2 linked regions of the Homo sapiens genome follow. The main gene of each other region encodes a partner of the protein of the gene in region 2 in a complex. Each region holds a gene or a part of one and is shown on either strand. Other genes may lie near its edges.

What was found. Proteins that work in one complex are often made in the same cells at the same time.
Region 1: DEK (region 2) and SMARCA5 share a complex: the UniProt entries of both Homo sapiens proteins name them as parts of the B-WICH complex.

Annotation. Positions count from the first base shown.
Region 1 is NC_000004.12:143,516,671-143,520,426, forward strand, and holds part of SMARCA5 (SWI/SNF-related matrix-associated actin-dependent regulator of chromatin subfamily A member 5), read left to right. Parts: intron 1-684; coding exon 685-759; intron 760-3,756. UniProt on the Homo sapiens protein: ATPase that possesses intrinsic ATP-dependent nucleosome-remodeling activity.
Region 2 is NC_000006.12:18,250,796-18,254,551, reverse strand, and holds part of DEK (protein DEK), read left to right. Parts: intron 1-3,756. UniProt on the Homo sapiens protein: Involved in chromatin organization.

The DNA.
Region 1 (3,756 bases), on a different chromosome or scaffold from region 2:
ATTATAGCATATATTGCCTAGCATAGATTTGTGCATCATTAATGAAGATTACTTCTGCCAATTTTTTTTAATGGATGAATAGAACTTTGCAGTGTAGAAGTTGTTTTTTGTTGCTTGTGACATATGAATGTCAGGATAAATATATTTGCAAGAATAACATTTATTACTAGTTTAGGAATCAGACTGTAGTTAGAGTATTCAATTTAGGCTGCGAGATAAAGTTTTTGTAATATTCCAGAAGGTGGAAATCAGGGTGACTAATTCTGATTTCTTTGTAGACATTTGTGTGGTAGCACAGTAGATACTGTAGTTTTATGACAAAAGGGGAACTTTTCCCCACATTTTATACTATTTAGTTTGGTTTCATGGTTATTACAGAAAAAGAGAAACAGATTGGCTTGTATTAAATGTAGTTTTCTTTTAGGATGATGAAGATAATCTTGTGTTCTAATCTTGGCAACAACCATACAGTTTATATATATGGGTTAAATACGTTGTTATCCCCATAGTATCTAATATCATTTTATCAGTTTTTCTGTTAGCTTAGATGACAGCTGTTTAAGTTTCTAGGAAGTTTGGGGTGAGAATGTATTATTTAAGATGTGTTTTGGTCAGAAATTGGTCTATAATGGTATGTTTACTATTTTCGAAGACCAATTCTATTTAATTATTTCTTTCTACCAGGAAATATTTGATGATGCGTCACCTGGAAAGCAAAAGGAAATCCAAGAACCAGATCCTACCTATGAAGAAAAAATGGTATGTTCTAGGCTTGTGAATAGAGTCTATAAGGAAAACTTTTTATCAGGTGATTAAATGTACTAAACATCTATCTTAGTCCATTTTGTGTTACAACAATACCACAGACTGGGTAATTTATAAAGAAACGAAATTTATTTCTTAGAGTTCTGGAGGCTGGCAAGTCCAAGGTCAAGGCCAGCATTTGTTGAGGGCCTTCTTGCAGTGTCATTATATGGAGGAAGGCCAAGAGAAGAGAGCAAGACAGGACTGAACTTTCTTTTATAACAAGCTCACTGGTGATAACCTCCTCCTGAGATACTGACAGTAATCTTTTCCTAATCACCTCTTATTAGGCCCTACCTCCCAACACTGTTGCGTTGGGGATTAAATTACAACATGGGAGATTTGGAGGGGGACACAGTCAAACCATAGCAATGTCTGTTTAATTTTTGTAATTATGGCACAGATATCCATTTGAAATATGTGTAATATGGAATACTATAACTTCCATATCTTATGTGTCTATGTAAGCCAAATGGAAGTATTATATGAATTAACATAATATGATGTCATTATCTAGTTATGTTAACAACACCTTTAAAAATTTAACCTTGGAAGCGAGGTGAAGACCAGAATAGTTACTCAGTGTATGTTTATTCTGCACTTGACTAGCATTGTACTCTGCTAGTTACCAAAAAAAGAAATATGCTCCTTGTTCACAGCATTTTTATATTATAGATGGGGTCTTTACAAAAAGAACATGACATTATATTGGAGTCATTCAAGTCCCAGTTCACGTTCCGTATCTTCTAAGAAACTTCTCAAAACTATGACTTGACTTAAACAGTACCTACACAGAGCTTTAAATTTAAATTCAGTTTTAGTAATAGTAGTAGTGGCTAACAGTGAATGTTTACTCCGTATCTGACCCTGTTAGGAATGCTTTATATGGATTAAACTCATTTAATTGTATTGAAATCTCAAAAAGTTAAAATAACAATGTATTAAATAAGAATACCACTACACAGTGTGCTCCTGTAGGGTAAAAACAGTGTCTTAATCTTTCTTTCTGTCTTCAGTACCCAGAACAGTATCTGGCACATAGCAGATCTTACATATTTTTTAAAACATACTTTTTTCTTGTCCTTTGACTTTCTCTTCCAAATCAGTAAATATTTTTGAATGTCTTAAATAGCTTCAAAATCTTAAAATTATGGTATGTATTTTATGTGCATGTATAATATGCACAATACATATAACACTATGTAAATTATAAATGATATATCTTTAGGTTTGATTTGTTATATATTTTACATATGTATATATGTAACTGTCACCTTTTTTGCTATCAAACTTAGAGAAAAAATAGATTTGCCGCTCTGTTTTTTTAAAGTGAATACTACTTTGAATACAGTCTACATATTTTAATACTGCTTTAACCCTTTATAGTTTAGATTCTGACACACTCTGCTGGTGAATCTAATTGCCAATTCTGAGGCTTAGTTTTAGTTTCTTGATTTGTGCTTGACATTGTTGACCATTCCTCAAAAATCTTGACTTGCCTTGAAAGACATTTTTTCCCGTGATAATATCCTCTTTGCTTTTTTATTCCTTTGTCCTTCCTTATTAAAATTTGAACATTTCTTCCTAGACAGTTTGATTCTTACTGGTTTTTACCTGGTATCTTTAAACTGAATATTTTCAAATACTTAACCTCTAGCCCAGAAGCCTGTAATCCGTATTTTCATTTACTTTAAAATCCTATTCATACCTCTTACTTGAGAATATCCAAAACTGAATTCATAATTTTTACTTAGCATACCTTAGTGTTACCTCAATGAATGAAAGTTCCTCTTCAGGTATACTCAAGATGTTCATGACAGTACTGCATACTTGTAAACAATAAGTTTACTTACGAGTTTATTCTCTTTTCCATATCACCCTAGTTTAGTATTTTTCTATTATTGCATGGATTATTTTGTGCTTCTGTATTTGCCTCCTTTCTTATGATCTGGCCCCTTCCAAGTTTCTTAACATTTTTGCAAAGTGTTATTTATAACACAAATTTGACTGTGAAATGGAGGTTTTTCAGTGGCTCTCTACAATGCTTTTCATTTTCTTAGTGGCCTTTATTGGAACTCTTTTCGTTTCTTCCAGGTTTTTCAGTCTCCCAGCATTATTTCCTTTTTTGACATCATGATCTTCACCTGCACAGTTTTCTTCTAAGCAAGAAGCTCCCTTGTCATCTGCTAGTTCTAACCATAGATAAGTTCACTATCCACTCCTCGTTCTTGAACCCAGAATGCTGAGTACTACTTCAGAAAACTAAATACTAGTGCTGATTGGTGCCAGTATAAGTTTATGGTTTTTATTTTCTTGGACCTTGAGTATTTATTGCCTATCAGTCTCATTTAGCCATTCTAAAATGTCCCCACTCTGATCAGTCTTTCTTCTCCATTTCTACCATGCCCTCATTTCCAATCTTCCTCCACAAAGAATTGCAGGCCTGTCTTTATTTTCTTTCTCTTTTCAAACATATGTATAGCCTCTATTATCCTACCTCATTTCTTCCTGTTTCAGAGAAAGAAGCTAGTCCAAAGCTATTCACTTTAATTTCCGTTTGATTTTATAATTGATTTCTTTCAGGTTCCTAATCATACTCTCTTGTTTCTGCTTTTTAGGTTCTGTTGGTTTTTCTCCCTCAAGACATTTCAGTTTTAACCTTTTCATTCTTTCAAGCAGTTTATCTTGATTCCAAACATAATTACAATAATTATTTTTTCAGTCCAAACATCTTGTAGATGCGTGCTCTTGGCTTTTGTTTCATTATCTATAAATTAAGAAATGTAATTATGTAAAATATGCATTCACATATGTATCTTGTTCAGCACTTTAAAAACAGTCTGTAATCTTGGAAAACATAAATAACAGAGGCTTGTCATCTGTAGGACATTACTGGGGTTCTAGCATGTTCACAGTCTTGTTACTGTGCAGATTCATTTGCTGCTATGACTG
Region 2 (3,756 bases):
ACTGTATTTGACATTAGAACTGAAAAATTTTTATTTTAAAATGTTAAAAATAATATTTTCTAGGAAAAATAACTTTTCAAAAGAATGAAAGAGTGGCATTTTATGTTTTTGTACATCTGTTTAATGTCTGGCTTAAGAGAAAACAGCTTGATTACCATTTGCTTCTGCATTCAGTCTTTTTGTGTTGTTGTTGTTGTTACTGTTGTTGTTACTGTTGTTTTGAGACAGATTCTCACTCTGTTGCCCAGGCTAGAGTGCAGTGGCACAATCTCTGCTCACTGCAACCACTGTCTCCCAGGTTCAAGCAATTCTTCTGCCTCAGTCTCTACAGTAGCTGGGATTATAGGCGTGTGCCACCATACCTGGCTAATTTTTGTCTTTTTAATAGAGACGGGGTTTTGCCATGTTGGCCAGGCTGGTCTCGAACTCCTGACCTCAGGTGATCTGACCGCCTCGGCCTCCCAGAGTGCTGGGATTACAGGCGTGAGCTACCGTGCCTGGCCGCATTCAGTCTTTTGCAATGTATTGTTTTGTTTAAAATCTATGAAGGGCCTGATGCAGTAGCTTATGCCTGTAATCCCTGCCCTTTGGGAGGCCGAGGCAGGTGGATCACTTGAGCTCAGGAGTTCAAGACCAGCCTGGGTGACAGAGTGAGACTGTCTCAAGAAGAAATTAGCCAGGCGCTGAGGCACGCTCGTGTAATCCCAGCCACTTGGGAGGCTGAGGTGGAAGCCTGAACTCAGGAGGTCAGTGCTGCAGTGAGCTATTTTCATGCCACTGCATTCCATCCTAGGTGACAGAATGAGATCCTCTCTCAAAATAATAAGTATATGAAGAAAACCGAGCCTCACATAAAAAGAATATTTTTAAAGTCTTTTTAGATAATTGTGTATATTCTCTTTTTGATACCATACAATACCAAAACTCTACATAAGTTGTAGTTTCCTAAAGATTAGTTGTAATGTTTAATGTAGGTCTGAAACCAGGTTAATTAACTTGGGTCTTGTATGTATAGTTTTGTAACATGCATTTACCGCTTGTAAATATTGGTTCCCTGAATTATGTCTTCCAAATGTTGACGTTTTATTGAACACTGTCATTAAATCATGCTCATTAATATAAATATCATCTCATCAGAAAAATTACTTAGGCCTTGGTAAACTATCAAGTTCACAGTAGTAGATGTGAATTTTCCAGAATTCTAGTTCCCACTTGAAATCATAACGTTTATCATTGGCGATAAATGCTCTCAGTTTTCCTTGAAGTGACAAGCTCACCTTGTTCATGTTTGAAAACATCTCTATCAAATACCTAAGTCTGAGTTAGCCATATTTGTTCTTTTAAAAAGTGGTGTTCTCTGGGAGGTGAAGCTTGCAGTAAGCCGAGATCGTGCTGCTGCACTCCAGCCTGGGCGACAGAGCGAGACTGTCTCAAAAAAAAAAAAAAAATGTGGGGTTCTATGAAAAAGGAGCTTGGAGCGTGTTTAGCTCACAACTCAGATACACAAATGCTTTTCCTTCAGAAAACCATTGAACTTCAGTTGTAGCCATATTTATGTATATCTTCCATTTTGTCACAGATATTAGAAAGACATGTACTTGAGAGTTAACACAGTATTTATTGTTTTATCAAGGACATTATTAAGTGAAACCATTTGCCTTGTTTGTTTCTGCTGGTGTGTGGTTGTGAGGAATACAGTGACTAATATATGTTGCTTCCTTGATTAGTACTAAGGTGCCATCAATTTTACCCACCTTTGCTTTCCTTTGCTTTTGCAATTAGTACAAATGTCAACACAGTGAAAAGAGCAGATAAATAGTGTTGCTATTATTATGAAAATAGTTTCTACCTCGGAGACTCCGAAAAAGGTCTCAGGAAACCCCAAAGTCCTTGAACCACACTGTGAGAATCTGTTTTTTCTTGTCATATAGAATCTTAACTCTTATGTCAGTTTTTCATATGTGATTCTGTGATGATTACTCCTTAATCTGATAGTATCGAGCTCAGGCTATTTTCTTTTTTTTTTTTTTTTTTTTTTTTTTGGAGACAGCGTTTTACTCTGTTGCCTAGACTGGAGTGTTGTGGTACAATCATGGCTCAATGCAACCTTGACCTCCTGGGCTCAGGTGATCCTCTCACCTCAGCCACCCAAGTAACTGGGACTATAGGTGTATGCTACCATGTGTGGCTAAATTTTACATTTTCTTAGAGACAAGGGCTCACTATATTGTCCAAGATGGTCACAAACTCCTGAGCTCATGTGATCCTCTCACCTTGGCCTCCCAAAGTGTTGGGATTACAGGCATGAGCCACTATGTCTGGCCTAGAGCTATTTTCTATGCTACAAGAAGTTTCCTTTTTCTCCTCTTTAACAATTTCTCAATGGTTTAATCAACACAACATTAATCATTGATTGCTTTCCTATCCTTCTATTGTACTTTACCTTATTTTATTTGTTAATCAGATTTTGTTTCCAAAAAGAGATAATGCTGTTGACACTGGATTTTGATTAATAGATTTAACTATTTTTGGAGTAGTATAGGAAAACTCTAAGGCATTTGTATATTACTACTTTTTGGATTTTGGTTTTAAAACTCCTCGTTTACTTTTGGGAATTGCATTTTTTTTTTTATTGGCTGCTTGAATAACTTAACATCTTTTCACTTTCCTGGATAGATTTATCCAGAACCTGTTTCAGTCCTCATACTAATAATTCGATATACAGATTACATCCTTGCTACCTGTGTCTGGTTTCTGAGCTGAGATTGTGAGGGATATTATGTTTTTCTAATACATTTGAGACCTGGAGATCATGTAACAAGTAGTAAGAGCTTGGACAGTGAGAGTTACCTTTTCTCCAAACGGTGCTATCAAAGAATTTATCCACATGGATTAAGGTTCTGATAATAGTTGTTAATGGTAGTATCTCACATAGCAAGGATATGTGTATGCATTCACGATTTCTTATAGAGAATCTTCTCTGAGAAATGTCTTTGATCCACCAACTTCAAGTTCCTGGAGTGACCTAATTTTGCTGTTTCCTAGTGTGCCTTTAGAAGGGTACGTTGTTGGAGCAATCTAGGTTATCCTGTGGTTTCTTTGCAGAGAGCTCAAGAGTACCATATTATACAAAGCAGCCACTTTTTCTTAATTTTTGTGTAGGTGACAGTGACCCCTAGACTGGAGGTTCCTGGGAGGTAAAGGACCTGTCGTTCTAGTCTCTGCAAGAAAAATATTGCCTAAAGTTATCACAAACATTTACACAATTGGATACCTTAAGGTTATGTTATGGAATTTTACCTTAATGTTTCTGCTTATTGCAGAAAATAAAGTAACAAAGGTAGAAATAAAAGAATATAAAAGATGCTCAATCCCAGAAATAAATATTAATTCTGTAATGCGCATTTTAACATTCTTGATGTTAGGTAATTTTATGGTTTTCAATTTTAGAATTTAGCAAAACTTCCTTGAGAAAGCACTTAAAAATTAAATTTATTGTTTACTGTAATCAACTCATTTTCATCAGGTGATCTCTGCTTTTAATATACATGGTTTAATTGATTATCAGAATAATAGCAGCATATTCTTAGTTTCATAATTAACATACTTATCATTTATTGTATACTTATAGGCATCAGTGATAATATGAGCCTGACATTGTTGAAAGTAGAGGCCAGAAGTAATGAATATAAACCGTATAGTTCATTCATAAATTCAGGATGTATAATTGGTAATAAAGTTATACATTTTTTTTAT